Regions from separate parts of the Homo sapiens genome. Here all the other regions are reported to be linked to region 1. The links are microRNA targets in miRTarBase. Many come from high-throughput screens and were not tested one by one. Region 1 holds a microRNA gene; each other region holds the end of a gene's coding sequence.
What was found. The annotated mature microRNA hsa-miR-4505 reads AGGCUGGGCUGGGACGGA and lies in region 1 at 3,208-3,225, shown strand. An mRNA with a match to its seed (bases 2 to 7 or 8) in the 3' UTR can be bound and repressed. Matches are read on the target gene's strand: a 7mer-m8 pairs with bases 2 to 8, a 7mer-A1 pairs with bases 2 to 7 and ends in A, and an 8mer does both.

Region 1 (5,794 bases):
AAAGCAGCCTTCCTCCTGCCCACCCACGTGAGCAGCTCAGCCTGGGGCCTGGGCGGGTAGGTTCCTGAGAGCACAATCTGATCTCTGGGAAGCTGGGCCCTCAACCCTCGGCTGCAGGGCCACAGTCCCTCTCAAAGGCACACAGACACTGGGTCTGGGCCACATGTCTAGGGTGGAGTGGATCAAGCTGTTGTTCCCAGGGCACAATAAACTTCATTTATACAAGCTTCAGTGGCCTGGTAGATTGCTTTCCTACTATAAACAGGACACCCTTCATTTTCTCTTCCTTGATAGGAGTCAAAGGCAAACACACTGGATCCAGTGGGAACTGGTGAAATGAGAGTTGCCATCTGTTGAATACCTAGTATGTGTCATTCACTCTGCATGCATAATCCTGTCTAATCTTCACAGCCTATGAAGTACTAGTATCATCCACATTTTACAGGTGAGGCAACTGAGGCCCAAGAAGTTAAGCAATGCCCAAAGCCACACAGCAAGAGGAGATGCTGGGGTATGAACTCAGGTCTGCCCAGGCCTCATTCCCACGCACCCATCAGACTTCCTTCAGTCACTGCCCAAGTGACTGTCCACACACCATCCAGGAACGGCGTTCTGAGTGTGGAAGCAGAAGTCGGTGTGGATGAATTTTGCTGGAGGCCTCCAGAATCTGAACTGATGCTCCAACTATTATTGCTCCCAAGTGTGTGACTGCGAGAGCCCATGTCAGTGTGTGTGTGTGTGTGTGTGTGTGTGTGCGCGCGCGCGTGCGCGCTGAGGTGGAGGGAGGGTGATCTGGATTCCAAATTGCAGTTTCCAACATTAAAGTTATGCTGTAATGCTTCTGATTCATAAAATGAGCTCATAGTCTCACAGTATCCTGAATGTTGCTTCGAATGCAAATGCAGGTCCCTTAGTAAGAATTGGGGATTTCAGCCTACTCCACCCTAGCCCCGGCCCAGCATGCAATTTTTCAGTCCCAGAGTCAAGAGTTCTCATGTGCAGAAAGAAGCAATTCCTCCAACAGAATGCGGCCACTGGCTCTGCTTCCTGCCACCTGCAGTGAGTCAGGGAAGAATGGAGCCCCAGGCTGCTTCTGTACTGATGCATGCACGCCTGCACACACACAGGAAGGGTGCCAATCTGGGCTGACCAAAGGAAGTGCCCAGGCTAGCAGATCCCTAGGGAGATGGCTCCACAACTCTTTCACCCTGAGGTCCCCTTAGGGTCAGGATGACCGACACATGCACTCCACAAGGCCAGCTACAGGGCAGTGCCAGGAAACTGGGTTCACCAGCCCCAGAATCACCCACGGTGGACTGACATTTTTGAAACCAGTGATGCAATCTGAGGAGGTTCCAGGAGCAGGGACTCACTGGGCCCAACACATGACAAGTACACATTTTTTTTGATGGAGATCTTTCACTAATTTGTTCAACTAACATGCACTAAGACCAGGTGAGGTAGTTCAAGACTGTAATCCCAGCACTTTGGGAGGCCAAAGTGGGTGGATTTCTTGAGCCCAAGAGTTCAAGACCAGCCTGGGCAACATGGCAAAACCCCATATCTACAAAAATAGAAAAATTAGCCAGGTGTGGTGATGTGTACCCGTAGTCCCAGCTACTTGGGAGGCTGAGGTGGGAAGATTGCTTGAGCCCAGGAGGCTGAGATTGCAGCGACCTGAGATCGCACTACTGCACTCCAGCCTGGGCGACAGAGAAAGACCCTATCTCTAACAACCAAAAAAAAAAAAAAACACTAAACACTTACTAGATGCCAAGCAGCATTGTGGGACCCATTCAAGCAGAGGCTACCAAATACTGAAATGTGCTTTAAGCATTTTACGTATACTAACTCACAGAATCCTCACAGCAACTCTATGAAGGAGATACTGTATAGGAACTCTAACTCAGAGTCTTTGTTTTTGACCACCACACTGCAGTATGTACACAAATAACTACATAAGGTGGAAATGAGTGTTCAGAAGATGGCTACAGCCTTCAGAAGTGGCATTTGAAACAGGATTAGAAGGATAAGCTGGAAACCCCCAGCCACTTTGTGGCTGTCCCCACCCCAGCATGAGCAAAGTTTTCTTCTGGGAGACCCAAATGCAAGAGAGGGGCTCTCAACCTGAAGATTCCTGGACTGGGCCCATTCCCCTTCCCCTCTTCTGTCAGAGGTCTTGGCACCCCTGGGCAGCCTTTCTCTGGGGACTCTAGACACAGGAGGCCCTCAGCTGAATCCACAACTGCATGTTGTCTTTTCTTGTGTTCCACTTATTGAAAGCAGCAGCACACAGGGTCAAACACTGGGGCTATTTTAAAATCCCACATGTAAAAATTAAATTCTCATCCCCATGGGCACTCCAGGGCGCTCTTTCCTGGGGCGGGGTGAGGAGCTGACAGAGTCACGGGAGTGGGGGTTCTGCTGGCACTTGGAGAGGCCACACTGGCAGTGGCTAGGCTGTTCCAGAGCAAGCTGGCAAGCTGTATGACCTGGGGGCATCCTCCAGGTTCTTCACCCCCTTGTCCCCCCGGGAGCTACACGGACCAGAGTAACCAGCCAGAGGCCAATCCAATTAGAGTGGAGACTGGACCAGGGCCATGCAACGAGATGGTTTATCACAGTAATTGAATGTTTACGCTCCTATTATTCACTGTCCAGAGCAGTTGGAAAAGGAAGACCTACGAATTCTCAACCCGGGAAGGCTTCTCCTTTTCCCTGGGTTCTGAAGCCACTTAACACCCAAGGAAAGGGTGCATTTCTCTGATCCAAAAGGGGCGTGTGCCACACCTTTGGTGGGAGGCTCTAGAGCAAGACAGGTGGTTTCTCCCCTCAGCTGAGGCCCCCTAGGGAGGACTGGCTTCTCGGTCCACCTTCACTAGGCCTTCAGTCTCAACCCTGAAGCTACAGGAACAAGAAGATCCCAGATCACCTGGCCAGGCTCCCCCTGCTGGAGCAAGCCAGACATCCCCTCCCTCCCCCAGCCGCAGCTGCCAACAGGGATCCCCTGCATACGCGGGCCACCGGGGCCTCCGTGGCCAGCCTCTCTTCCCCCATCCCACCGCCCCCCGCGCGAGGCTCCACAGGCTGGCACACAGGTCCCACGTGGGATGGTGGAAACAGGAAGCAGCCACCGTAGTTGTGACCAACAAAGTTTTAAATGGGGCATATAACTTCCCCTTTCATCTTCTCACCAGCTCTCGCTGGAGGCTGGGCTGGGACGGACACCCGGCCTCCACTTTCTGTGGCAGGTACCTCCTCCATGTCGGCCCGCCTTGGGGCTGAAGCCTGAAGGCCCCAGGGCACACGAAGTTCCCCTTCCTCCCCTAGACCTTTACCCAGAGGCCTTGGGGGCAACCTGACACACATGGTCCTGCATGTGCGACTTGGGAGGCGACGTGACCAGCTCCACCAAGCCGGCCATATGCAGGGCCCGGCCGAATCCCGGGTTTCGGCGCTGCCGCCAGGCACCAGGGAACACAGCTCCCCGCGAGGCACCGCGCGGGCTGGGAGGGCTGCGGCGGCGCGGGCGTGCGGGGGCGCGCGGGAGGATGACAGGTCTGAGGTGCGCCCGCCCGCGCGAAGCGCTCCAGCCTAGGCCTCTGCTGACTGCATTTGCCCCAGTTCCCCAACGCCCCTGCACCTCTGTCCCCCAAACTCCTGGCGTGGACGCCGCGTCCAGGCCCACTTTCCCGTGCACGCTGGCAGGGGAAGGGGCTCCCGCGCCAAGTTCCCTCAGCTGGCTAGCCCCTCGCCGCGCCTTCCGGGCCTGGGCTCCGTCACGTCAGCCGGTCCCCACGGACACCACGTTTCTCTCCAGCGGAGGAGGAGCAGCCGGATTCCCGAGCCGCCGCGGGCCGCCGGGTGGGGAGGGCTTTCCTGGCGGGGCCGCGCCCGGGTGGGCGGGGGCCGCGCGCAAGCTGCGTAGCTGCACAAACACCGCGGGGCTGCGCTGCACACGCAGCTGCGGGCCGAGGGCGCGGACCGCGGGGGAGGGGGCGGCGGGCTGCAGGCGGCCCCCGCACGGCCACACGCGCCCGCTCCACCGCCGCCCAGGCCGCAGAAGTTCGAGCGCAGCGGCCCCCGCGGCCCCCTCTCCGGGCCGCGCCTGCAGAGCTGCAACCCGCCGTGCGAGCAGCCACAGCTCGCGCGCCGCCTGGGGTCCCCTCGCCGGCCCCGCCGCGTGCAGGCCTCGGCCGCCGGCCAGGCAGCCCCACTTACCCAGCTCTTGCCCGGGCTCCGGGCTCCGGGCTCGGCTGTCCCCCTTCCGCCGCGGGTCGCCGCCTTCGGTCGCCTCCGGGACTCCAGCCGCCTGCACGCACTCCCGATTTTAAAAACAAACAGGCGCCGTCGCCTCCCCGCGGCGCTCGCGGGGCTTCCGCCAGCCCGCGCCTCCCGAGGCTGAGAAGTTTGCTGGCAGGGCCCGGGCGGGACGCGCGGGCTGTCACCCCCCGCTTGCGATGCAGGAGCCTCGGCGCGCCCCGCACCCGTGCCGTCCGCCTCGCGAGCGCTCTGCCTCCCTCCGTGTCACCCCCAGTCCTGCGATGCAGTGTCAGGATTGCACGGCTCTGACTCATCGGTTGAGCTCACAGCTTGAAAAAAAAAAAAAGAGAGAGGGCGAGAGGCAACAGCGGAGGAGGAGGACTCTGGCGTGCTACAAAGGATTGCACAACTCGAGGCTGGGAGCGCGGAGCGCCCAGCGGCCGGCCGGCGCGCGCGGCACCGCGGCGAGCAGGAACCAGCTCTACCACTTCATCAGCACAACTGTCTCGGGGCGGCCTCAGCCAGCAGGCCCGGCGCCGCCCACTTCCTGCGACCAAATAAGGCCGGGGAAGGCGTCCTTAAACCTCAGGCGGCGGCCGGGGCTGGGGATTTCCAGCAGACCTCACCTCCACTCACGAGTCGGTCGCCGTCCCCATCCCCCGCCCAGGCTGGCGCCCCCGATGGCTTTGCTGGCGGGCCACGCTGCTAGTTCCTTTCACACCAAGGTCAGGAGGAGACGGTGACGAAATGTTTGGAAACCCATTGAGCCTGCCAGGAAAGTGTGTGTGTGATGCTGGGGAAGGCACAAGTCGCTTTCTTCCACAAAGAAACTCTCTCTGGTTTTGGATACGGTAAATCATGCACAATCCTCTCCATGGCATTTTATTAACAGACTCTCCGAGTTTCACTTTCTGGCTCAAAAGCGTCCTGGTGCGTGTAAAGGTTATTGAGAAACTGGCCTCAGTCCCTAGAAAGGACCCACCATCTCCATCGCTTAGGTGAGGAAAATCTCCTGGATTTAAATCTAGCAACTCAGGCCAGAGTTGAGCGGCTTTTCACTCCATACTCACATTTTCCCCTGTCTTCCCTAAATATCCCCCTGATCAATTCTCAGGTCCAGGCCTTGATGCCTCCTTGCCTGACTGGTGGGAAGATGGAAAACATTTTTGCAGCTCAAGAGGTTGGTTCTGGCCCCCACATTCAATGGGGCTCTAGGGCCAGGGGAAAGTTCAGGGGAGTGTGTCCTATTCTTCCTTCCAAGTTTTTTGGTGGTGGTGCAGTGGTGGTGGTGGCGGCGGCGGTGGTGGCGGTGGCTGTTTTTCAAGGAGATGGGTCACAAGGAGATTTTCCTTTGAAAGAAAAACCACCGAAGAATACCATGTGTCCTGGCAGCCACTTTTCAAAACACTGTGGCCAGACCTGAGAACCAGGTGCATCCCTCACTTTCTCAGGGAGAAGAGGAGGGAGGGGCAGCAGAATATGATTCTCACACACTCACTGGGCCTACAGGGCCAGGGTGGGGTGTGGAGGA
Region 2 (5,794 bases), not on the chromosome of region 1:
TGAACTCCTTGGCTCAAGGGATCTTTTTGCCTCAGCCTCCAAAAGTGCTGGGATTACAGGCCTGAGCCACTATTCCCAACCTAGATGACTCTTATAGATTAAGAATTTAGAAATAGTAGGAACATGCCCCACTACAGTATATGACAGTCATTATATACAAATATCATTAAGGGACAATTTTTTAAAAATCACAATGTTATTCAAACATAGCTCCATAACATATTAGTAAAGGTCATGAAGTATTTTTAAGTGATCCATTATGTCACAGTCGAGCTTATCCAGGAATACAAGGTTGATGTAACATTGGAAAAGCAATAAATACAAATACCACATTTATTTAATTTAATTTATTTATTTTTGACAGAGTCGCACCCTGTCACCCAGCATGGAGTGCAGTGGTGCAATCTTGGCTCAATGCAACCTCCACCTCCCAGGTTCAAGTGATTCTCCTGCTTCAGCCTCCCAAGTAGCTGGGATTACAGGTGCACATCACCACACCCAGCTAATTTTTGTATTGTTAGTAGAGATGGGGTTTCACCATGTTGGCTGGGCTGGTCTCGAACTCTTGACCTCAAATGATCTGCCCACCCCCACCTCCCAAATTGCTGGGATTACAGGCATAAGCCCCCACACCCAGCCTGACCACATTTGTTTTAGAAAAGCGCCTTTCCATGCATTCACTTCTTCAAGTTTTTTTTTTGTTTTGTTTTTGTTTTTTTTTTTGAGATGGGGTCTTGCTATGTTGCCTAAGCTGGTCTAGAACCCCTGGGCTCAGGCCACCCTCCCAAGTAGCTAAAACTATAGGCATGCATCACCACATCATTTCATTGAAGTATTTATTAGGTACCATCATGAGCTAGGTGCAGTTCTAGGTATTGAGTTTTATCAGTAAATAAACATGATCATCACAGAGGATGTGAAGGAAGCATTTAATAAATTCAAGAGGAATTCAGCCTCATAAACTATGAAATATTGGGAAATAATTCATCATGTAAAAACTGGATATAAAGAAAAAACTTTTCCTGCAGGACATTGTTGCAGGAAGTCAGGGACCCCAAACGGGGGGACTGGCTGAAGCCATGGCAGAAAAACATGGATTGTGAAGGTTTCATGGACATTTATTAGTTCCCCAAATTAATACTTTTATAATTTCTTATGCCTGTCTTTACTGCAATCTCTAAACATAAATTGTAAAGATTTCATGGACACTTATCACTTCCCCAGTCAATACCCTTGTGATTTCCTATGCCTGTCTTTACTTTAATCTCTCAATCCTGTCAGCTGAGGAGGATGTATATTACCTCAGGACCCTGTAATAATTGCATTAACTGCACAAATTATACAGCATGTGTGTTTGAGCAATATGAAATCTGGGCACCTTGAAAAAAGAACAGGATAACAGCAATGTTTAGGAAACAAGAGAGATAACCTTAAATTCTGACCGCCGGTGAGCCAGGTGGAACAAAGCCACATTTCTCTTCTTTCACAAGCAAATGGGAGAAATATCACTGAATTCTTTTTCTCAGCAAGGAACATCCTTGAGAAAGAGAATGCACACCTGGGAGTGGGTCTCTGAACTGGCCCCCCTGGGTGTAGCCATCTCTTATGGTCGAGACTGCAGGGGTGAAATAGACCCCAGTCTCCCATAGCACTCCCAGGCTTATTAGGAAGAGGAAATTCCCACCTAATAAATTTTAGTCAGACCAGTTGATCTCAAAACCGTCTCCTGATAAGATGTTATCAATGACAATGGTGCCCAAAACTTCATTAGCAATTTTAATTTCACCTTGGTCCTGTGATCTCGCCCTGCCTCCACTTGCCTTGTGATATTCTATTACCTTGTAAAGTACTTGATGTCTGTGACCCACACCTATTTGCACACTCCCTCCCCTTTTGAAAATCCCTAATAAAAACTTGCTGGTTTTTGCGGCTTGTGGGGCATCACGGAACCTACCGACATGTGATGTCTGCCCCGGACACCCAGCTTTAAAATTTCTCTCTTTTGTACTCTGTCCCTTTATTTCTCAAGTTGGCTGACACTTAGGGAAAATAGAAAAGAACCTATGTGAATATCGGGGCTGGTTCCCTGACAGGACATAACCTCTTCAAAAAATAAAAAAGAAATAAAAGCCTACAGCCAAACCAACAAAATAGAGTGCATATCTCACCAGAACTGCAAAGACAAGTATGCTGGTATTACTACTTTTAGTTGGTGTTGTGCAGCGGGTTAAAATCAGTCCAGTAAAGCAAGAAAATATTTAGAGAGAGCTTCATCATCATACGAATTTTGGGGGTCATTGTTCAGTCCAAAGTACTTAATATGATTCTTTTCTCTTTCCACATAGAGAATCAGATAATCTATAAATAATGACTCTTACTGTTCCACTTTAGGAGTTAGGTATACATACATATGTGTATATATATGTATATATATATACACATACACACACACACACACACACACACAGTGACCCCCCAAATTTCATATGAAGTTCCAAACCTCAATGTGACTGTATGTGAAAAGAGAAGGGGGCGGGGAGGGGGGAGACCGACCGACCTATTTGTTGGTCTCCATCGTGTGAAAACATGAGGAAGTGGGCACTTACATGCCAGGAAGAGAGCTCTCACTAGAGGTTGACCATGCTGGCACTCTGATCTCAGACTTCCAGCCTCCAGATATGTGAGAATATAAATTTGTGTTTTGGGCCAGATACGGTGGCTCAGGCCTGTAATCCCAGCACTTTGGGAGGCCAAGGCAGGTGGATCACCAAAGGTCAGATCTGACCAACATGGAGATCAGCCTAACCAACATGGAGAAACCCTGTCTCTACTAAAAATACAAACTTAGCTAAGGTTTGTGGTGCATGCCAATAATCCCAGCTACTGAGGGTGAGGCAGGAGAATCACTGGAACTCAGGAGGTGGAGGTTGCGGTGAGCCAAGATCATACCATTGCACTCCAGCCTGGGCAACAAGAGCAAAACTCCATCTCAAAAAAAAAAAAAAAAAAAAAAAAAAAATCCTGTGTTTTTAACCTCATTGATTTAAAATTAAATTAATTTCTAAGCCATTTGGTCTGCGGTATTCTCTTATGGTTGTCTGAGCTGACTAAGGCAGATATTGGTACTGAGAAGTGAGGTACTGCAATTAAAAACAAACAAAAAAACTAAAAATGTGAAGCAGCTTTGAAACTGACAAATGAGTAGAGGCTGGAAAAATTCTGATGTGCAAGCTGGAAATAAGGTTGGTAAGGGTTATTCTGGTGAGGTGTCATTGGGGAATGAGGAACATGCTATTGGGAAATGAAGAAAAGACAACCCTTGATATAAAGTGGTGAAGAACTTGGCAGAACTGTATTCTAGCATTTTACGGAAGGTAGAGCTTGAGACAGATAAAATGGTATGTATCACTAAGATCTGTAATTAAAGTGTTAAAGGACACAGGAAGCTTCATTATTCCTGAGTGCTTACAGGAAAATGTGCTGGGAACAGGCCCCCCAAATCTGGCCATAAACAGGCAATGAGAAACTGGCCATAAACAAAATCTCTGCAGCACTGTGACATGCTCGTGATGGCTATGACGCCCATGCTGGAGGCTGCTGGTTTACCAGAATGAGGGCAAGCAACACCTGGCCCACCCAGGGCAGAAAACTGGAAAACTGCTCAAGGCATTCCTAAACCACAAACAATAGCATGAGTGATTTGTGCCTTAAGGACATATTCCTGTTGCAGATAACAAGCCAGAGCCTGTCCCTTTCTTTCTCATAAGGAATACTTATAGCTGATCTACAATCTATAGGAATAATGTTTATCACAGGCTTACTGTCAATAAATATGTGGGTCAAACTCTGTTCAAGCTCAGCTCTGAAGGCTGTGAGCCCCGATTCCCACTCTGCACTATATTTCTGTGTCTTTGTCTTAATTCCTCTAGAGCCACTGGGTTAGGGTCTCCACGACCCAGCTGGTCTCGGCAAAAATGCAAAAGGAGACCTGAATTGCAGAAGAAATTGTTAAGGAAAAAGGAACCAGAACTTGGAGATTTGGAAAATTCTCAGCCTATCCATACTGCAAAAATTAGAAAACTTGTACTGAAGAGAATCCTCAAAGTGTGGCTGAACAATCATTTGATAAAGAGATCATGAGTGGGATTCATGGACTATATCAGCCATCTTAACAGAAGTGAGAAGAGAGACTGGATTATACTATAAGAGACACTGCCACTTACATTGTGCCACCTAAAATGGACAGAGAAGACAGAACAGAACAGTCAAGGTTGTCACACTTCTTATTTTACAAGAAGGGGACATAGAAATAATCAGCTGTGAAAGGGCACTGGCAGTTATGGATGGTTTCACTCCTGACATGCTCTGCAGGATCCATGGGAACAGAAGAGAACCTTGGAGGAGCATCTTTTTAACAATCCACCTCTGGGGCCTACATCATCTTGGCTTCTGGTAAATTTTGACATGAATGTGCCACACTGGCAGCCACTAACCAACAGGGGCTGGGATCAATCTGCATGATTTATCTCGTACAGAACTTGTTAATGCTATGATCTTAGGAATCTAATCACCAAGGTGAGGCAGCCTGCAGTACTGACCTCACCATCCATGACCCTTCTTCACAGATGCCCAGACTCAGGTAACCATGATGTTGTATTCAGAACCTGTAGGTTTAATTTCAGACCCTCGGGATGCATCTAAGGCCAATCTGTGAGCCATTACAACCTCCAAAAGGCATTTAGGACTAATCTGATGATCTTTGCACTGCCAATAATTAAAGATGGCAACCAATGGGCTAAATGGTAACAACACTCATATCCTTACATTCATAGTATTTCTCCCCAGTGTGAATTCTTTCATGCATACTTAGGCATGAGGAAAGAGCAAATGCTTTCCCAAATTCTTTACATACAAAAGGTTTCTCTCTGGTAGGAGTTCACAGGTGGGGTGAGGAATACAGAAATTCTTTCCCACATATCTTGCATTTACCTTTCTCCACTGTGAGTTTTCAAATGTTTACTACGATGGGAAGAAGTAATGAAGGTCTTCCCACATTCAACACATTCATAAGGCTTCTCTCCTGTGTGAATTCTTCTATGTTGAGTAAGCGTTGAAGATCTATTGAAGGCTTTCCCACATTCCTTACACTGATAGGGTTTCTCTCCAGTGTGATTTCGTATGTGTATAGCAAGGCCCGTGTACTGAGTGAAGGCTTGGCCACATTCCTTACATTCATAGGGTTTTATTCCAGTGTGAGTTCTTACATGTTGAGTAAGGTGAGTTGATCTAGTGAAGGCTTTCCCACATTCCGTACATTTGTGTGGTTTTATTCCAGTGTGAATTTGAATGTGAACATTAAAGGATGAGGAATTTCTAAAGGATCTTCCACATTCTTTACATTCAAAGGACTTCTCTCCTTTATGAGTTTTTGCATGTGCAGAAAGTTGAGAAAAATTAGTGAAGGATTTCCCACAGTTCTTAGTCTTTTCGGATTTCTTTCCAGTATGAACTGCTACACACTGCTTTAAGTGTGAGGAAGTTGTGATGGCTCTCTCACATTCCTGAAATTCACAGAGTTTCTCTCCAATGTGGATTCCCATGTGATTATCAAGGCTTGCAAAATACTTAAAGCCTTTTCCACATTCCTTACATTTGTAGGGTTGTCTTCCATTGAGAATTTCAAGATGCACAGCAAGGCCTGGAGTTAAGGTGAAGACTTTTCCACATGGATTAAATTTGGAAAGTTCTTGTCCAATAGAGGCTTCCTTGTGCACACTGATGCTGTCTTTTCCAT
Region 3 (5,794 bases), not on the chromosome of region 1:
CTCACAGTAGCCCACCAGCCGGAGCACGGCCCCCCCATTCCGCCGTCAGGGCACTCAGGAGCGCGGCCCCCCCCCCCATTCCGCTGTCAGGGACCCAGGAGCGCGGGCCTCCGCCCATTCCCCCATTCCACCGTCAGGGGACCCAGGAGCGGGGGGGCCGCGTGGGCTCCACAGTGATCTCCGACCCCGGGCGGGCTCCAAGGGGCCCAGGGCCCAGGACAAACGCGGCCTCGGTGCTTTTGCAGGTCCTGCAGCCTCGCGTTTCAGAGCCCCGGGCCGGGCCCCCGAGGAGCTCCCGGCACTCTCGCCTCTTGTCTTTCAGCTCCTCAATCAGTTTGAAAACACAGGCCCCCCACCGGCAGATAAAGAGAAAATCCAGGCCCTCCCCACCGTCCCCGTCACTGAGGAGCACGTAGGTATGAGAGCTCAGCCTCCCGAGTAGTGGGAATTACAGGCACCCGCCGCCACGCCTGGCTCATACTTGTATTTTCAGTAGAGACAGGGTTTCACCATGTTGGTCAGGCAGGTCTCGAACTCCTGACCTCAGGTGATCCTCCTGCCTCGGCCTCCCAAAGTGCTGGGATGACAGGCGTGAGCCACCGCACCCGGCCTCGAGCATTTCCCTGAAGGTGGGCTGGGAGGAGAGGGTTCTGTCCAGGTCCCCTCTGGCAGCCCGGGGGACACACACACGGCTTTTCTCCCCTCGCTGGGCTCAGGGGCGGCCTCCGGCTGAGGCTGTGGAGTAGCCTGCCCTTGAAGGCTCGGCAGGCCCCCCACGCCCGCTGTGACCGCAGCTGCACACTCCCGCAGGCTCCGGGCTCGAGTGCCCTGTGTGCAAGGACGACTACGCGCTGGGTGAGCGTGTGCGGCAGCTGCCCTGCAACCACCTGTTCCACGACGGCTGCATCGTGCCCTGGCTGGAGCAGGTGAGTGCCCCGCCCACCCGCCCCCCCACCCCGACCGCGGCCCTCCCGCCTCTAACCTGCCCCTTCTCCCGTCCCTGCCTCTGTCCCCACAAAGCACGACAGCTGCCCCGTCTGCCGAAAAAGCCTCACGGGACAGAACACGGCCACGAACCCCCCTGGCCTCACTGGGGTGAGCTTCTCCTCCTCGTCGTCATCGTCCTCCTCCAGCTCGCCCAGCAACGAGAACGCCACAAGCAACTCGTGAGCCCACGTCGGCCGTCGGGAAAGCACGGGGCCTTTCCCACCCACCCTCAGCCAGCGCCACACGGCACCCACAGACTGGGTGCCCCGGCGGCGCCACGCTTGGCTGGTCAGCGCTGCAGGTCCCGCCTGTTCCAGGGCAGGACCCGGGCCCGGCCCACCGGCCCCCTGGCTTGGGAAGGCGTGGGCCACATGGTCCCCTCTGGGGCGTCCCCAGCCTCCCCGTCCTCTGTCTAACCTCACCCTCTAAACGTTCAGCGGTGGAAAGATTTTTATAATTTTAAATTATTACTGCTTTGAAATAAACGGACGTTTGAGCTCACGTGGCGGCCATGCATGGTTTGTGGCGGAAGACGGGGCCCAGCGGCTCCCCCAGCGCTGAAGCACGGGGTTCAGCGGCTCCCCCAGTGCTGCAGGTGCCGCCAGGACGGGCCACGTGGGCCCCCAGCCTCCCCCTCGGCCGCCTCCACGACCCGGAGTAGGGGGGCTCGGGACCATGAGGATGACCAGCAAAATTCAAGAACAAAACTGCTCCAACAGACTTTTTTAAAGGAAAAAATATGTGTATCTTGAAAGCTATTTAAAATACACTACTTACAAAGAGAAGCCGGTGCTGTGGCTTTCCTTCTGCGCCCGTGCGTCAGGAAAAGGCCAAGCTGGGAGGCTGGTCGGGCTCTGCAGAGTCCGGTCCTGTCTCCAGGGGTCTGCGCCTCCTGCAGGGCTTGGCACCCAGGGCCGGCTAGCAAAACTGCTCTCCCGAAGTTAAGCCCAGGAGGGCTGCTGGCGAGGTAGCAGGGTGGCAGTGTCACTGGGTCGTGAAATTTAAAACCAGAAACACCAGCGTTAAAGCGCCAGGGCCCAGCGCCTCTGCCCCACGCTTCGGTCACACCTCAGCCACGCGGGTTCCTGGCCCCTTCTGAAAAGCCGGACCCCACTGCTCAAGGTTGCTGGATGCCTGGCCCGGGGTGCAGCCAGCTCGGGCACAGCTGGCAAGGCGTGGGGACCTGCGGGCTCAGGGGGCCGGGGCAGTGGGTTCATCTCAGTTGCTGATGATCCCACCATCCTGGGATCCAAGAATCAGACGATGGAGACAGCTAACGGAGAGGAGCCTCCAGCAGGACCACCCGTGTCCCTCCACGGTAGACGGCTCCTGCGCGTGGGAGGCGCGTGCCCCACGCCCCTACCTGTTCTCCAAAGACTCCCGCCCTCCGCTCTGCACCACACTCTTCACTGTGTCCCGCGACGTGTCTGCGTCAGCCCCCTTGGCCAGGTAACTCGGATCCCACCTGTCCGGACCGTGCGCAGGGCACCTTCTGGGCTGCTGCCGCAACGCCGTGGCGGGCCCTCCTGGTGGCCGCCCTCTGGGGTCGCGCGTGGCGGGCCCTCCTGGTGGCCGCCCTCTGGGGTCGTGCGTGGCGGGCCCTCCTCGTGGCCGCCCTCTGGGGTTGCGGAGCCGAGAGAAGCGTTGGGACTTCCATGACTGTGGCCGCCAGGGCAGAGTGCCAGCCCTGAGGGCGTCCACATCTCAACCCCAGGACCCGCGGACTCGGCTCCTCACGAGGTAACGTACCCGGTGCCCTAAGACGAGGTTGCATGGAGGACACCGAGGTAGGGAGGTTACCTCGGATCGTCCTTGATCTCCGGACTGAGAGAACAAGTGTTTTAGGCCCCGAGTCTGCGCGACAGGCTGGGCCGCCTGCTCCGGGTCACAGTCCCCCGGCCGAGCCGTTTTCCTGTTGGAAGATGGAGTTTTGAGTCAGGAGGCGTTGAGGGAGACAAGGCTCGGGTTCTGTGTGTCCGTGGTGGTTCTTGGGAGTTGGAGTTGGAGCTGGAGAGGAGGGCTGGGCAGGTGAGGCTTGCAGCGGCGGGACCTGGAGACTCGGAACTGGAGGGCCTTTGTCAGAGATGCTGCCGGGGTGTGCGCCTGCCTGTGAGGCTGGGACTTCCCTCGCGTGGAGTGGCCAGAGGAGCAGGACCGATTGGTTCGCCCCACCCAGGCATGAGCCTCGGGGGCGCTGGGCCCAGAGGACACCGGCACCCTGGTGGGGGCTGTGAGGCCGCATTGCTCGAGGTCAGACAGCAGTAAGAAGTGGCCGCCCCTGGTGTCTTCCCTGCCCCAGGAGCCTGCTGCACGACAGGACAGGGCCCTGGTAAGGCCCGCACCCCTGCGTCCCCGGGCCCCTCGCGCCTGCAGCCGCCCTCTCCCCATCCGCCCTGCCGCTCAGGAGTGCTTCGTAAGCGGAAGCACAGTTTGCAACAGTTTGGGGTTGTCTTATTTTCACTGCTGGCGATTTCCTGGGGAGCCGCTGGTTCTGTGCCCCCAGGCCGCTCCTCTCTGTTGGGGGGCCCCCACCTCACTGCCTGAGGACAACGGGGGTCCCCAGGTTTGGGCTTGCGAATAAGCTGCTGAGGGCTCTGTGTGAACCGGGATTTCACTGCCCTGGGATGTGCGGAGCTGTACGCCCATTCCACGCTCTGTTTTAGAAACAAAGAAACAACTGCTGACCTGTTTCTTTTTTTTTTTTTTTTTTGAGACGGAGTCTCGCTCTGTCGCCCAGGCTGGAGTGCAGTGGCGCGATCTCAGCTCACTGCAACCTCCGCCTCCCGGATTCAAGCGATTCCCCGCCTCAGCCTCTCAAGTAGCTGGAATTACAGGCGCCCGCCACCACGCCCGGCTAATTTTTTGTATTTTTAGTAGACACGGGGTTTCACCATGTTGACCAAGATGGCCTTGATCTCCTGACCTCGTGATCCACCCGCCTCGGCCTCCCAAAGTGCTGGGATGACAGGCGTGAGCCCCCGCGCCCGGCCTGCTGACCCGTTTCTTCGAGGCACATGTTACGTTCCTGCGTGGGGTGCCAGCAAGTTTTATTTCAGCTGTGGTGACCTGTGCAGCTCCCAGTGACAACTCAAGTGGCGACGCCCTCCGACTGGCCAACGTGGGCCGATCTCCCCTCACACTGCCAACCTGGGGACATCCTGGGTGCAGCCCTGTCCTCCACCCACTCCATGCCAGCCAAAGATGTCCCCAGAGGCCGCCTGGTGTCCCCTGGGGTGGGGCTCGCTTCTGTCTGCAGGGTGAGCAGAAGCTCTCGGGCCGGGCACGACCCTCCCTTCCCAGAAGGGTTTTCCGTGTCAGGCTGCTCAGCACCTCCCAGCAAGTGCCTCGGCCCAGTCTTCCTGTATTTATGTGGAAGGCGGCGGCTGGGGATGGAGCCCTGGCCGTCCCCGGGGACTTCACCAGGGCGATGCTGCTGTCGCCCCACACACAGAAGGGGAGACAGGCCCAGGGTGTCACTGCCTGGCTCCAGGCTGTGGGGCTCTTGGCTCTGACCTTTTCTCTGAGAGGCTGGAGTTTGACTCCCAGGGCTGTAGGCAGAAGTCCCAGCGGAGTCAGGATGTCAGGAGGGCGCTGGGCACAGGTGGGGGCGCCCCCACACCGACGGCCAGCCCTCTCTGCGTCCCGCAGGACAGCGGCATGAAGCCCCCAGGCCTGCCCTGCACCCAGCACGGCTCCTGCCCTCAGCCTCTGCCCTTCCCGGGGGATCTGAGGAGCACCGAGGCGTCGGCCTCTGCCCTTCCCGGGGGATCCGAGGAACACCGAGGCGTCGGCCTCCGCCCTTCCCGGGGGATCGGAGGAACACCGAGGCGTTGGCCTCCGCCCTTCCCCGGGGGATCTGAGGCTTATTTTGTCATGAGAACAGTTTCAGACACCGTGTGCATATTTCCGACGTCTGCTGTAACAAAAGACCACAAAGTTGATGGCTTACTACGTTTATTTTCTGGCGGTTCTGGAGGCCAGAGTCCAAACTGGGTCCCACTGGGCTCATATCAAGGCAGGAGCAGGCCGGTCCCTCCCGGGGGCTCCAGTGCGGAACCGTTCCCGCCTTCCCCAGCATCTGGAGGCACCCACGTCCCTCAGCTTAGGGCCCTTCCTCCCCTTCACGGCCACAGCGCGGCCCATCCCCATCTCTCTCTGGCTCTCACTGTCCCGCCTCCTGTCGTGAGGACCCTGTGAGGACACTGGGGCCCTGGACCCCCCACCCTGGATGCTCCTCCATCTCCGTCCCACCTGCAGGTGCCTTTGTCCTCGCAAGGCGTTGTATTTGCAGATTCCCGGGACGGGACCGGCTTCGAGGCTGGTGTTCTGCGGCGTCTGTCACCGTCTCCCCGGCCCCCTCCCCTCCCCTCCGCTCCTGCCCCCACTCCCAACGTGCTCCCCACCCCGAGCCCCTGCCTCTGCCGGGCCCTGCCTGGGACGTCCCCCTCGACCTTTCGACGTCTGCGTCCTTCAGCCCGAGAGGCGCCCTGTTGGGTCCTCGAGGTCCCCAACTCAGGATTGAACCTGCTTGGTGGCCACCACCCCCTCAGGCTGGGACCCCCCTGGAGGGCTCCTGGGCTGTGTCCACAGCGCCCGCACACGGTGGGCACTCAGCGCTTACAGAGCCCGCAGGGGGAAGAACAAGCGTGGCCGGGCCCCTCGCCACCAGCCCAGGCACCTTGGGGAGCCGCCGGCCTCTCAGGGCCTCAGGAGACCAGGACGGGCAGGAAGTGGGCGGACAGGTGGTACCGCCGCGTCCGGCCGCCTGGCCGGGGCCCCCCCCTCCTGTCCAGCGCCAGGAACATGG
Region 4 (5,794 bases), not on the chromosome of region 1:
TTCCTCCACTGAAGTGTGTCTTCAGCCCCTCAAAGTCACCCATGAAGGTTGTAATCAACTTCTTTCAAACTCCTGCTAATGTTAATTTTTTGAGATGGAGCCTTGCTTTTGTCACCCAGGCTGGAGTGCAATGGCATGATCTCGGCTCACTGCAACCTCCGCCTCCCGGGTTCAAGCGATTCTCCTGCCTCAGCCTCCCAAATAGCTGGGGTTACAGGAAAGCGCCACCATGCCCGGCTAATTTTGTATTTTTAGTAGAGATGTGGTTTCACCATGTTGGTCAGGCTGGTCTCGAACTCCTGTCCTCAAGTGATCCACCCGCTTCATCCTCCCAAAGTGCTGGAGTTACAGGTGTGAGCCGCTGCACTCGGCCTAATTTTTAAATTTTTTTAATACAGATGGGTTCTCACTTTGTTATTCAGGCTGCTCTTGGCCTCCTGGGCTCAAGCGATCTTCTTGCCTCAGCCTCCCAAAGTGCTGGAATTATAGGTGTCAGCCACCACTCCCGGCCTAATCATGAATATTCTTTTTTTGTTTTTTGAGAGAGTCTCACTCTGTCACCCAGGCTGAAGTGCATTGGCACGATCTCGGCTCACTGCAACCTCTGCCTCCCGGATTCAAGCGATTCTCATGTCTCAGCCTCCCGAGTAGCTGGGACTACAGGTGCGTGCCACCATACCTGACTAAGTTTTGTATTTATTTATTTATTTATTTATTTATTTATTTATTTATTTATTTTTAGTGGAGATGGAGTTTCACCATGTTGGCCAGCTTGGTCTCAAACTCCTGACCTCAGTTTATCCACCTGCCTCAGCCTCCCAAAGTGCTGGGATTATAGGCATGAGCCACCACGTCCGGCCCTAATCATGAATATTCTTAATGGCATCTAGAATGATGAATGCTTTCTAAGTTTTCAGTTTACCCAGATCCATCAGCGGAATCACTATGGCAGCTCTAGCCTTACAAAATGTATTTCTTAAAAAAGACTTGAAAGTTGAAATTACTTCTTCATCCATGGGCTGCAGAATGGATGTGTTAGCAGGAATGAAAACAATATTATTTCCCTGGTATCCCTCCATCAGAGCCCTTGGGTAATCAGGTGCATCGTCAATCAGCAGTAATAACTTTAAAAAATATTTTTTTTGGCTGAGTGCGGTGGCTCATGCCTGTAATCCCAGCTACTCAGGAGGCTGAGGCAGGAGAATCGCTTGAACCTAGAAGCAGAGGTTGCAGTGAGCTGAGATCATGCCACGGCACTCCAGCCTGGCCGACAGAGCCGACGAAGGAGTTGGTCTCAACAGTGGCTTAAAATGTTCGGTAAACCATGCTGGGAACAGATGGGCTGTCATCCAGGCTTTGTTGTTCCATCCACAGAGCACAGGCAGAATAGATTTAGCATCATTCTTAAGAGCCCTGGGATTTTCGGAATGGTAAATGAGCATTGGCTTCAACTTAAAGTCGCCAGCTGCATTAGCCCTAACGAGAGTCAGCCTGTCCTTCGAAGCTTTGAAGCCAGGGATTGACTTCTCTTCTGTAGCTATGAAAGTCCCAGGTGGCATCTTCTTCCAATAGAAGGCTGTTTGTCTACATTGAAAGTCTGTTTTTGAGTGTAGCCACCTTCGTCAGTGAGATCAGCTAGATCTGATGGATAACTTACTGCAGCTTCTCCATCAGCACTTGCTGCTTCACTTTGCACTTTTATGTTACAGAGACGGCTTCTTTCTTTCAACCTCACAAAACAACCTCTGTTAGCTTCTGACTTTTCTTCTGCAACTTTCTCACCTCTCTCTGCCTTCAAAGGATTGAAGAGAGTGAGGGCCTTTCTCCGGACTAGGCTTTGGCTTAAAGGAATGTTGTGGCTGATTTGATCTTCTTTCCAGACTCAAACTTTCTCCGTATCAGCAATAATGCTATTCTGCTTTCATATCATTTGTGTGTCCACTAGAGCAGCACTTTTAATTTAATTTATCATTTTTATTTTTTATTGTTTTGAGACAGAATTTCGCTCTGTCACCCAGGTTGGAGTGCAGTGGTGCGATCTTGACTCATGGTAACCTCCGCCTCCCCACTTCAAGCGATTCTCCTGCCTCAGCGTCCTAAGTAGTTCGGAGTACAGGCATGCACCACCACGCCCAGCTAATTTTTTGTATTTTTAGTAGAGATGGGGTCTTGCCATGTTGGCCAGGCTGGTCTCGAACTCTTTTTAAAACATTTTTTTTGAGACAGAGTTTCGCTTTTGTTACCCAGGCTGAAGTGCAGTGGTGTGATCTCGGCTCACTGCAACCTCTGCCTTCCGGTTTCAAGGATTCTCCTATCTCAGCCTCCCGAGTAGCTGGGATTACAGGCGCCCACTGCCATGCCTGGCTAGTTTTTGTATTTGTAGTAGAGACGGGGTTTCACCATGCTGGCCAGGCTGGTCTCGAACTCCTGACCTTGTGATCTGCCCGCCTCAGCCTCCCAAAGTGCTGGGATTACAGTTGTGAGCCACCGTGCCCAACCTGGAGCAGCACTTTTAATTTCCTTAAAGAACTCCCCCTTCACAACTTGGCTACCTGTTTGGTGCAGGAGACCTGACTTTTGGCCTCTCTCAGCTTTCAACATGCCTTCCTCACTAAGCATAATCATTTTGACCTTTTGATTGAAAGTGAGAGATGTGTGATTCTTTCTCCCTTTTTCTGTTTTCTTGTTTTGAGACAGGGTCTCACTGTCGCCCAGGTGGGAGTGCAGTGGCAGGATCTCAGGTCACTGCAGCCTCTGCCTTCACCTCCCAGGCTCAAGGGCTCCTTCCACCTCAGGCTTCCTAGTAGCTGGGACTACAGGTGCGTGCCACATGCCCAGCTAATTTTTATATTTTTTGTAGCGATAAGGTTTCATTGTGTTGCCCAGGCTGATCTCCAACTCCTGAGCTCAAGGGGTCCACCAGCCTTGGCCTCCCAAAGTGCTGGGATAACAGGCGTGAGTCACCAGGCCTGGCCAATGACTCTTTCTCTCACTGGAACACTTAAGAGGCCATTGTAGGGTTACTAACAGGCCTAATTTCAATATTATTTTGTGTCTCAGGGCATGGAGAGACTCAAGAAGAGGGAGAGAGACAGGGAATGGAGTGAGCAGTGTGAGCAGTGAGAACACACTCGACATTTATTAAGTTCACCATCTTTTTTTTTTTTTTGACAATGTCTCACTGTGTCACCCAGGCTGGAGTGCAATGGCACGATCTTGGCTCACTGGAACCTCCGCCTCCTGGGTTCAAGCAATTCTCCTGCCTCAGTCTCCCAAGTAGCTGGGATTACAGGCGCCTGCCACCACACCCGGCTGTTTTTTGTATTTTTAGTAGAGACGGGGTTTCCCCATGTTGTCCAAGCTGGTCCTGAACTCCTGACCTCAGGTGATCCACCTGCCTCGGCCTGCCAAAGTGCTGGGATTACAAGCGCGAGCCACCGTGCCCGGCTAAGTTCACCATCCTATATGGGTGCAATTTGTGGTGCCCCAACAATGACAATAGTAACATCAAAGATCACCGATCACACATCACCATAACAGATATAATGAAAAAGTTTGAGATATCGAGAGGATTTACCAAAATGTGACCCAGAGACGCTAAGTGAGCACATGCTGTTGGGAAAATGGCACCGACAGATTTGCTTGATGCAGTGTTGCCAGAAACCTTCAATTTGTCCTTTTCTTTTTCTTTTGAGACACAGTCTCACTCTGTTGCCCAGGCTGGAGTGCAGTGGCGAGATCTTGGCTCACTGCATGCTCCACCTCCCGGGTTCAAGCAATTCTCCTGCTTCAGCCTCCCAAGTAGCTGGGATTACAGGCGCCTGCCTCCATGCCCAGCTGATTTTTTTATTTTTAGTAGAGACGGGGTTTTGCCATGTTGGCCAGGCTGGTCTCAAACTCCTGACCTTTAGTGATCCGCCCACCTTAGCCTCCCAAAGTGTTGGGATTACAGGCATGAGCCACCATGCCTGGCCAAACCTTCAATTTGTAAAAACTGCAATAACCGTGAAGCACCATGAGGTGTATTGGGAGATGAAGGTCTGCAGCTGGTGATGGACACATGGTACACCTTTCCTAACAAGACCTTACCAAAGCCACACAAGTACGAAAAGAGAGTAAACCTAGGCCCCCGACCCCAGGTCAGGGTCCCTTCATCCTCCCCTGGGCACCTCCCCATCTGCAGACCCATCGCCCTCAGATTACACACCTGGGGCTAGTACTCTAAGGCCAAAAAACCCAAAATCTGAGCCTGCCAATACTGCAGTGAAGTATAGTAACTGATGCACAAAGCACTGTGGAGAACTTTTTATTGTTTAAAAATCATAATCGAAGCTTCAAAAAACATACAAGCCAAGACATCCCAGTTCTAGTCCCCCACTCCCTAAAGGAGTACACAGAACTATCCTTCCCCTCCTGCTCCCACACTGCTGGCCAGGACCCTGCCCGGGGAGGTTGCCTGCCCACCCTCCTGCCTGCTGTACAGTAAGTCACCGGCTGGGGAGGAGCCCTGGGGGAGGTCAGGGTGGCTGGCTCCCAGCACCCCCACCCCCTGCACGAATGCAGCATATGAGCTGTGTGTGGGAAAATGGGGACAGTGCCCTGGGCAGGGGACCCCCAAGGGGGAAAGAGCCTGTCCCCATTCCCCCTACCCCTCCCCAGCCCCCCAGCTCAAGGGAAGCTGTCATCATCATCTTCTGCCATCTCCTTGGCAAACTCCAAGTCCTGCTGTTCTCGCTCACGCCGTTCCTGGGGAGAGAGGCAAGTGAGGCCAAAGCTTCAGAGCAGCTCAGCCCTTCCAGACACTCGCCCGACTCCCCTTCTGTGTGGAAGTTTGACCTTTCGGTCTCACCCAGAAAGCAGAGAGCTTACCTCTGCAGACTCCAAGTCCTTGTTGTACGATTTGGGAGGAAACCTCATGGCCTGGGGCACAGCAAAGAGAGGAGATGAGCGAGGGAAGGAAGCAGGTGAGGCACTCACGCAACCTGCACTCCCTGCGTCCCCTCTGTGAGCTAGACACCAGGCAGGAAGCGGCGGGCCCCTCTCCAGTTAGTCTAGTGGGGGGCTAGGCATCAAAGGAATTATTACAGTGCCCTGTGGGAAATGCTGAAAAAAGAGGAATAAACGACCAACTCTCTTGACTGGGCAGGGAGGAGGAAAAGGAGGAACACAGTGGATGTGGCAACGGGGAGAGGCCTTCCCGGTGGAGGATTCCATGTGGGAGGGGCCTGGCCTGCACCCAGTGGGCTGGCTGCTGGGTGGTGGGGCAGGAGTGGGAGGGGAGGCTTGACCTAAGGGACCAGGTCACAAAGGGCCTTGCATGTCACGTGGAGTAGGGCTTAGCCAGATTTTAAGCAAGGCAGCAATATCCTAGTTTCCTCGGAGGAGACCAGAAAAAAACATGGCAAGCAAATAGTAACAGCGCCAAACTCAGTGCTTAACTGAGGATAAGGGCTCACCCTTTTGTGGAGCTAGATACCAGCGCCATCTTTTTTACAATTTAGACTTCGCTAAGTGCCTCAATACAGGGACTTCTTTTAATCTTACCAACCCTGTGAAGCAAGCAAGACAGGTAACACCTCCCTATCAGCTTCAGAGATGGAGAAACAGAGCTTTGAGAAGTTAAATGCCTCAAATTTGGAACCAAATGTAGAACCCCGCCCTCTGAATCCCTGCCTGGTCCTCCCTGGTGACCACATCATCCCTTAAACGCAATAGGAGAGGGCAACTGGCTATGGAACTATGGCCAAGTCCCCTCCCCATTCTGGGCCCCCTGTGCTGCAGCTCAGTGATTTTA
Region 5 (5,794 bases), not on the chromosome of region 1:
GCCCTTACCGTAGAGCTTAGAGACAGCAGCAGGTGACGGGGGAGGGACGCTGTACACTGAGCTGGGTTAGATTTTCATTCCTATCACTTATTAGCTGTGCCACCTAGGTTAGTCACAGGATTCCCAGTTCTCAGTTTCTTCTTCTGTAAAATGGGGATTGGAAAAGGCTAACTGTACCCTACCTCCCATGCAGGAGCTTTGCAGCTCATAAAGTCCAGTGCAAATGCAAGAGATTAGTAGAAAACAATCCTGGGGAAAGAGAAGTGATGGAGGGCATGGACTGGTCCACTCTCCTGCAGTTCTGGGGTCTCCTGGCCCTCTCTGATTGCCCAGTAGATGGGCCAGCCTTCCGCAAGAGAAGGCCTAAAAAGCTTGGTCTGCACATTGTCCCAGGATTCCAACCCCAGCTGGGGTTCCTTCTGATTTTTTTTTTTTTTTGAGATGGAGTTTCACTCTTGTCACCCAGGCTGGAGTGCAGGGGCACAATCTCAGCTCACTGCAACCTCTGCTTCCCAGGTTCAAGCAATTCTCCTGCCTCAGCCTCCCGAGTAGCTGGGACTACAGGTGCCTGCTACCATGCCCGGCTAATTTTTTTTTGTATTTTTATTAGAGACAAGGTTTCACCAGACGAGGTTGGCCAGGCTGGTCTCGAACTCCTGACCTCAGGTGATCCACCTGCCTCAGCCTCCCAAAGTGCTGGGATTACAGGCATGAGCCACCATGCTCGGCTGTTCCTTCTGATCTTAGATGATGTCTTAGTGATTTCACTTACTTTCTATTCCTTAGAAAAAGAACTCAGAATATCCCATGCTAGGGATGTACATGTCTACATCCCTACAGAGGTACAATTCTGGTCACACTGCTCTTACCCTTAAAACCCTTAATTTATCCTAACTTCCCACATGCATAAACTCCAGACTCAACAAGACATATAGTAAGGCCTTTCTTGGTCTGCCTGCCTGCATTTCGAGGCCCATCTTCCCACATCCTCCCCCTACATTCTCCACTACATGTTTTCCCCCAAATAAGCCAAACCCTTTCCCTCAGTGGGCTTGAGAACACCTCTACCTCTCCTTCAACAACAATGAAATAATAATGCAGCTACTCACTGAACACACATACATCACTTTACATATAGCAGGTAGCTCTTAGCCTCATAAGTGAGGCCTTATTTTGCACATTTTACAAATAAGAAAACTGGGACTCAGAGAGGTTAAGTAATGTACCCAAGATCAATTAGTACATGACAATCGTGATTTGAACCCATCTTTCTTGCTGCAAAGCCTGTGATCATCCTCCTCTGCCGGGCTGGTCTCCCTCTTCTTTCTTTTTTCTCTTTCTTTCTTCTTCTTTTTTTTTTTTTTTTGAGACAGAGTTTCTCTCTTGTTGCCCAGGCTGGAGTGCAATGGCACAATCTCAGCTCACTGCAATCTCCACCTCCCGGGTTTAAGTGATTCTCCTGCCTCAGCCTCCCGAGTAGCTGAGATTACAGGCATGCACCACCATGCCTGGCTAATTTTGCATTTTTAGTAGAGACAGGATTTCTCCATGTTGGTCAGGCTGGTCTCGAACTCCCGACCTCAGGTGATCCGCCCGCCTCGGCCTCCCAAAGTGCTGGGATTACAGGCATGAGCCCCCGCACCTGGCTTCCCTCTTCTTTCAAAGTGCAGTTTGAGATTTATTTCCTGGAAACCTGCACTGAACTCTTCATCTCAGCTCTCTGCAACCACCCTGAGTGGGGTGCCTGTGAGTTGCACTAGCAAAGGCTGACACTGATCAAACAGTAACGGCAGCCATGGTCCCCTGTCTTCCTCCCAAGATGTAACTGCTATAGGGCAGGAATCTAGCACCATGCCAGGCACAGAATAGGTGTTAAATGTTAAATAATGGAATGAAAAAGTTAGAAGGGAATTTTCGGGGGAGTATACATTTAGGAATAATCTATGCCCATTTCACATGAGGAAACCCTTCTCACCCATTCCTTGCGAATACTCACACTCATTCCTTAGGAAACAATCTCAATCCTTCTAGATTTTGAGACATTTTGAACTTCCTACATAGTATAGCGCAGTTGATTTTCTTTCCTTTCCTGGTGCTATTTCACGTGAGGCAATGCAGTGCTGTGGTCACAAGTTTTGGGATCAGACCTGGTTCAGTCACTTACGAGTTTGTGACCCTGGAGCCCCAGTTTTCTCATCTGCAAGATGGGAGGATACTACCTACCTCATGGAGTTGATCTGAGGGTTGAAAGAAGTACCTTACCACCTGTGAGACAGCATTATGATTGCTGTTGTGTAGGTTGGGAAATGAAGACAGGAAAGGTGAGGAGCCTTCCCACAGTGGAAAGGGGACGGGAAAGCCTATGGGGGTTGGGGAGCGAGACCTGGGCCAGGCCATCTTATCCCAGATCCTGTGCTGCCTCTGCAGCACCATGAGGTACAGGACCACATGGCTTAACAGACATTCAGTATTTCCCTCATTCCTCAGTGAGGCACCCCTAAAGTCTTTCCAGAATGGACTTCCAAGGGGTGAGTTCTCAGCAGATACCAGCTCCAGCCCGGAGTTGCCCTCACAGGGTCCAGCAGCTAATTCAACCTTTTAGAGCTCTCTGTACTCCCAAGGTTCCGTCTGACCATTCAAAAATGGCTCATTGTCTGGGAATGGTGGCTGAGGCTTGTAATCTAGCACTTTGGGAGTCCGAGGCAGGAGGATTGCTTGAGTCTAGGGCCAGTTACTTGGGAGGCTGGGGTGGGAGGATTGCTTGAGCCCAGGCGGAGAGTGCAGTGAACCCTGATCGCACCACTGCACTCCAGCCTGGGCAACAGAGCAAGACCCTGTCTCAAAAAAAAAAAAGCTCAGCCCTATCCATGCATATGGGACCACTTTGTGTGCTTGGAAATGCCCCCTCCCATAAGGCTTGGGTTTCTCTTGCAAGGGGTGGAGGCACTCCAGTTGCTAAACACCTTTCTTGGGTAGGGGATTGAGGAGACAGGATGCCTTTGGAAGAGCATCCCCTAATGCACAGTTCCATCATCCCTTATAGTATCTGCAGCTCCTCCAGCTCCTGTTTCTATCTGTTACTTCAGGGGCTGAACTCAAATATAGGGATCCAGAAGCAGCAGGGGAGGCCTCTCTGCAGTCTCCTCACTAGGGGGCAGCAGCGGCTACGGGAGGCCTCCCAGCCCTGGGAGGGGGAAGGGAAATGCTGGGCCAGCAGGTGGCAGTGCCCTTCTTGGACCCAAGTAAGGAAAAAGTCCAAGTACCCAGAGAAAGGGAGGGGAAAAAAATCCGTATCCTGTAAAGACCCAGGTTCCACTTGTCCTTGAAGATCCCGCTGAAGGTGTCACACTCCCTCCCTCCAGGAGGCTCCCTGGACCCCTCAGATCCAGATAGGTGATCCTCCTCCATTCCTGCCTCCTGGAGAAAGAATTACACTATCACCTGATGAGTGATACCTGACTCCTCCAGAACCCTTCAGGGCAGGCATTTTATTCATCATTTATTTTAAAAATAACTGGGAGTCAGAAACAGATGCTAAGAGGAGGCACATTCTTCAAGTTTTCTAAAAGAACCCTTTCTACTTTGGATAGGACAAAAATGAGCTTTGGCTGAATGAACTGAGACTAGACATAAGAAGGACTGAGCTGCTGATGAGTTATGAATGGAAGACTAACACGCAGTCTCAAGGCAGGAGAAGAAGAACATGTGCTGTTTTCCTGGGAGTGGGGCAACTGGTGGTGGCTGTGAGAAGGCAGAGCTCTTCAGAGGGGACAGCCAAGAACAGGTAGTCACTGGGGGCCCTATTTAGCCTGAGAATGCAGGAGGGATTGTTTTATGGGGTCCTCCCTGCCCCTCAAGACACCCTTCCGCCCCATCCCCACACCAGGGTGCTAGAGAAGATAGGAATATAGATTTTAATCATTGTGCTGCTGCTATTAACCAGAGTGCAATTAATCCATCTTTTGTGGATTTTGATGCCACAGTGTAAATGAGAGGGTTTCACACAGAAACACTCTGGGGGCCTTCGGTGACAAAAGGGCTAGGCCTCTGGTGGGGAGGGGGTGGCAAAAGGTGAAGTGGAATTAGGAGAGATGTGGGGAGCAGACCCAGGGCTGGGAGACTGCTCCTTCCCCATCACACATGCCCATCAAGGACCCCAAGAGGAAGGGATTCTTCCTGCCATGGCCTGGGCTGTCCAAGTGAGCCTGACTTCCCTTCCAAGGCAGCTGCCTCTAGCTTCATGTCCAATTCTCGCTGAGTAGATGAGGTCCAGGGTAGGCCCACAGTTGACCACCAAATGGTGAAGAGATATAAGCCAAGGGAGAAGAAAGTGGTTTGGAACCCCCAATCATTCTCCATTTTTCATCCTAAGCTACCTTAAAACTAGTTCAGAGCTGGGGAAAGACAGCAACAGCAGTCTATCCTCTCGGTCAGAACTGCTCTACCTGCCTCCTGGAGATGGGGGTGGGGGGAGGTGGGACTCACAGGAGGGAGAGGTAGGAAATATTCCTGTGCCTTTCTTTGCCTGTGCAGTAAGTGAAGACTCTCTTCAGAGTCAGCTCTGCAGCTGGTGGAGTCATCTGTGCCTCTTACAGTTTTCTGAGATTGGTAGGATTTGGAGCTATAGAGAGGTCAACTTAGAGCCCCAAGGCCAGACTCCACTGGTTGCTAACAGGAGCTGACATTCTTGGAAGTAGCCCCGACTGCTTGGACAAGATCATTCCTCATGTTAAGAGTGAAGTGATATGGTCCAGGGCAAAGGTACTGAGCCCAGAGACAGCTAGGAGTCAGAGACACACAGGGCCTCCACTGCGTCACTCAGACCCTGGTTGACACCTCCCACGGCGAGGAGGCAGTTCTTGACGACTATGCTGGAGCAGGCACAGCGGGGTGTGGGCATGGCAGGGAGGATCTCCCATTTGTTCTTCCCTGGGTGGAATGCTTCCGCCGTCTCCAGGACAGTGGGTTGATTCCCTGAAAGTGTCAAGGGAATCAGACCTTACAAAGGAGTCCAACCACCAATCCATGCCCCACGGTCACCCCACCTCCCTCCCTTCGGCACCCACAAGCAGAAGCCAAGCAAGGTCAACTTCCTTGGCTACAGGATTACTCCCTTTACTAAGCCAGTGGCTTTTGTCAAGCAGCCACTTTGTCCCTCCTACCGTCTTCCTGTCTCTTTAAGAGTAAGCTTTCTTTCCCTACCCATTGCTTTTTACCAGAGCTTTCTAGCACACTACTGCCTCACTGCTGCCCTTTCCTAAAAAAGCTACTGACATGGTCTAGTTGACACGGTTCCTTCATGCCTGAGTAAAGTGGGAGTTTGTCCACACTAAGTAGACTTGGGGTACCTGGAAGCCCTGCTGCCTGGATCTCTCTTCCTTGATGATGGGGAACTTCTCGCTTTAGAGTCCCTCCTTCAAAATACTAGTAATCTCTGGCAGAGTTAATACATCAAACCCAAGATTCATCTGTTGAACTTATTTAATCAGATTGCTTTCCTGTTCCACGATTGGGCTGGAACAGGATAAGAGACTGGTCAGAGGAGGACCAAGGCTAATCCCCTCCACAGTTTGTCTCCAGTCATTCCCGTTTAGGGATCTGTGCTCAGTAAGCCTGTGCTGCACGGCTACGGGTGTCCCTTATTCTCTCTGCGTCACAGTTTCCCTGTGTAGGAGGACAGAAAGGCCACACCTGGGGCCCACAGTGGATAGGTAATATCTAGGCTGGAAGAAAGGGAGTGCTTCGAATTTTTTGGAGTATAGTGGTAGGCAGGTGGTCTGCAGGGAGTCAGTAC

Region 2: miRTarBase lists ZNF562 as a target of hsa-miR-4505. Seed matches in the 3' UTR shown: 7mer-m8 at 4,501-4,507 and 8mer at 544-551.
Region 3: miRTarBase lists RNF126 as a target of hsa-miR-4505. Seed matches in the 3' UTR shown: 7mer-m8 at 1,379-1,385 and 7mer-m8 at 1,610-1,616.
Region 4: the mRNA of PSMD3 is a reported target of hsa-miR-4505. Seed matches in the 3' UTR shown: 7mer-A1 at 4,524-4,530 and 7mer-m8 at 4,493-4,499.
Region 5: the mRNA of KLHDC8A is a reported target of hsa-miR-4505. Seed matches in the 3' UTR shown: 7mer-m8 at 4,111-4,117.

What each region holds. Positions count from the first base shown.
Region 1 is chr14:73,755,542-73,761,335 of GRCh38, forward strand. MIR4505 (microRNA 4505) reads left to right here and starts at 3,206; the gene lies at 3,206-3,278. It overlaps MIDEAS (mitotic deacetylase associated SANT domain protein), which reads right to left and starts at 4,762. Exons shown (of 13, transcript NM_001367710.1): 1 at 4,222-4,762. RefSeq lists silencers at 825-1,119, 3,430-3,539, 3,900-4,049, 4,180-4,419 and enhancers at 959-1,038, 2,730-2,779, 4,840-5,169.
Region 2 is chr19:9,647,964-9,653,757 of GRCh38, forward strand. ZNF562 (zinc finger protein 562) reads right to left here. Exons shown (of 6, transcript NM_001130031.2): 6 at 1-5,794. The coding sequence ends at 4,986. Among named protein-coding and RNA genes, the nearest start is that of ZNF562, 24 kb to the right of the region's middle.
Region 3 is chr19:643,504-649,297 of GRCh38, reverse strand. It overlaps RNF126 (ring finger protein 126), which reads left to right. Exons shown (of 9, transcript NM_194460.3): 7 at 323-416; 8 at 811-926; 9 at 1,021-1,772. The coding sequence ends at 1,170. It overlaps FGF22 (fibroblast growth factor 22), which reads right to left. Exons shown (of 3, transcript NM_020637.2): 3 at 4,925-5,794. The coding sequence ends at 5,694. Among named protein-coding and RNA genes, the nearest start is that of FGF22, 6.5 kb to the right of the region's middle. RefSeq lists an enhancer at 4,213-5,153.
Region 4 is chr17:39,996,456-40,002,249 of GRCh38, reverse strand. PSMD3 (proteasome 26S subunit, non-ATPase 3) reads right to left here. Exons shown (of 12, transcript NM_002809.4): 11 at 4,870-4,920; 12 at 4,291-4,746. The coding sequence ends at 4,669. Among named protein-coding and RNA genes, the nearest start is that of PSMD3-AS1, 15 kb to the left of the region's middle.
Region 5 is chr1:205,332,619-205,338,412 of GRCh38, forward strand. KLHDC8A (kelch domain containing 8A) reads right to left here. Exons shown (of 6, transcript NM_018203.3): 6 at 3,443-4,974. The coding sequence ends at 4,781. Among named protein-coding and RNA genes, the nearest start is that of NUAK2, 14 kb to the left of the region's middle.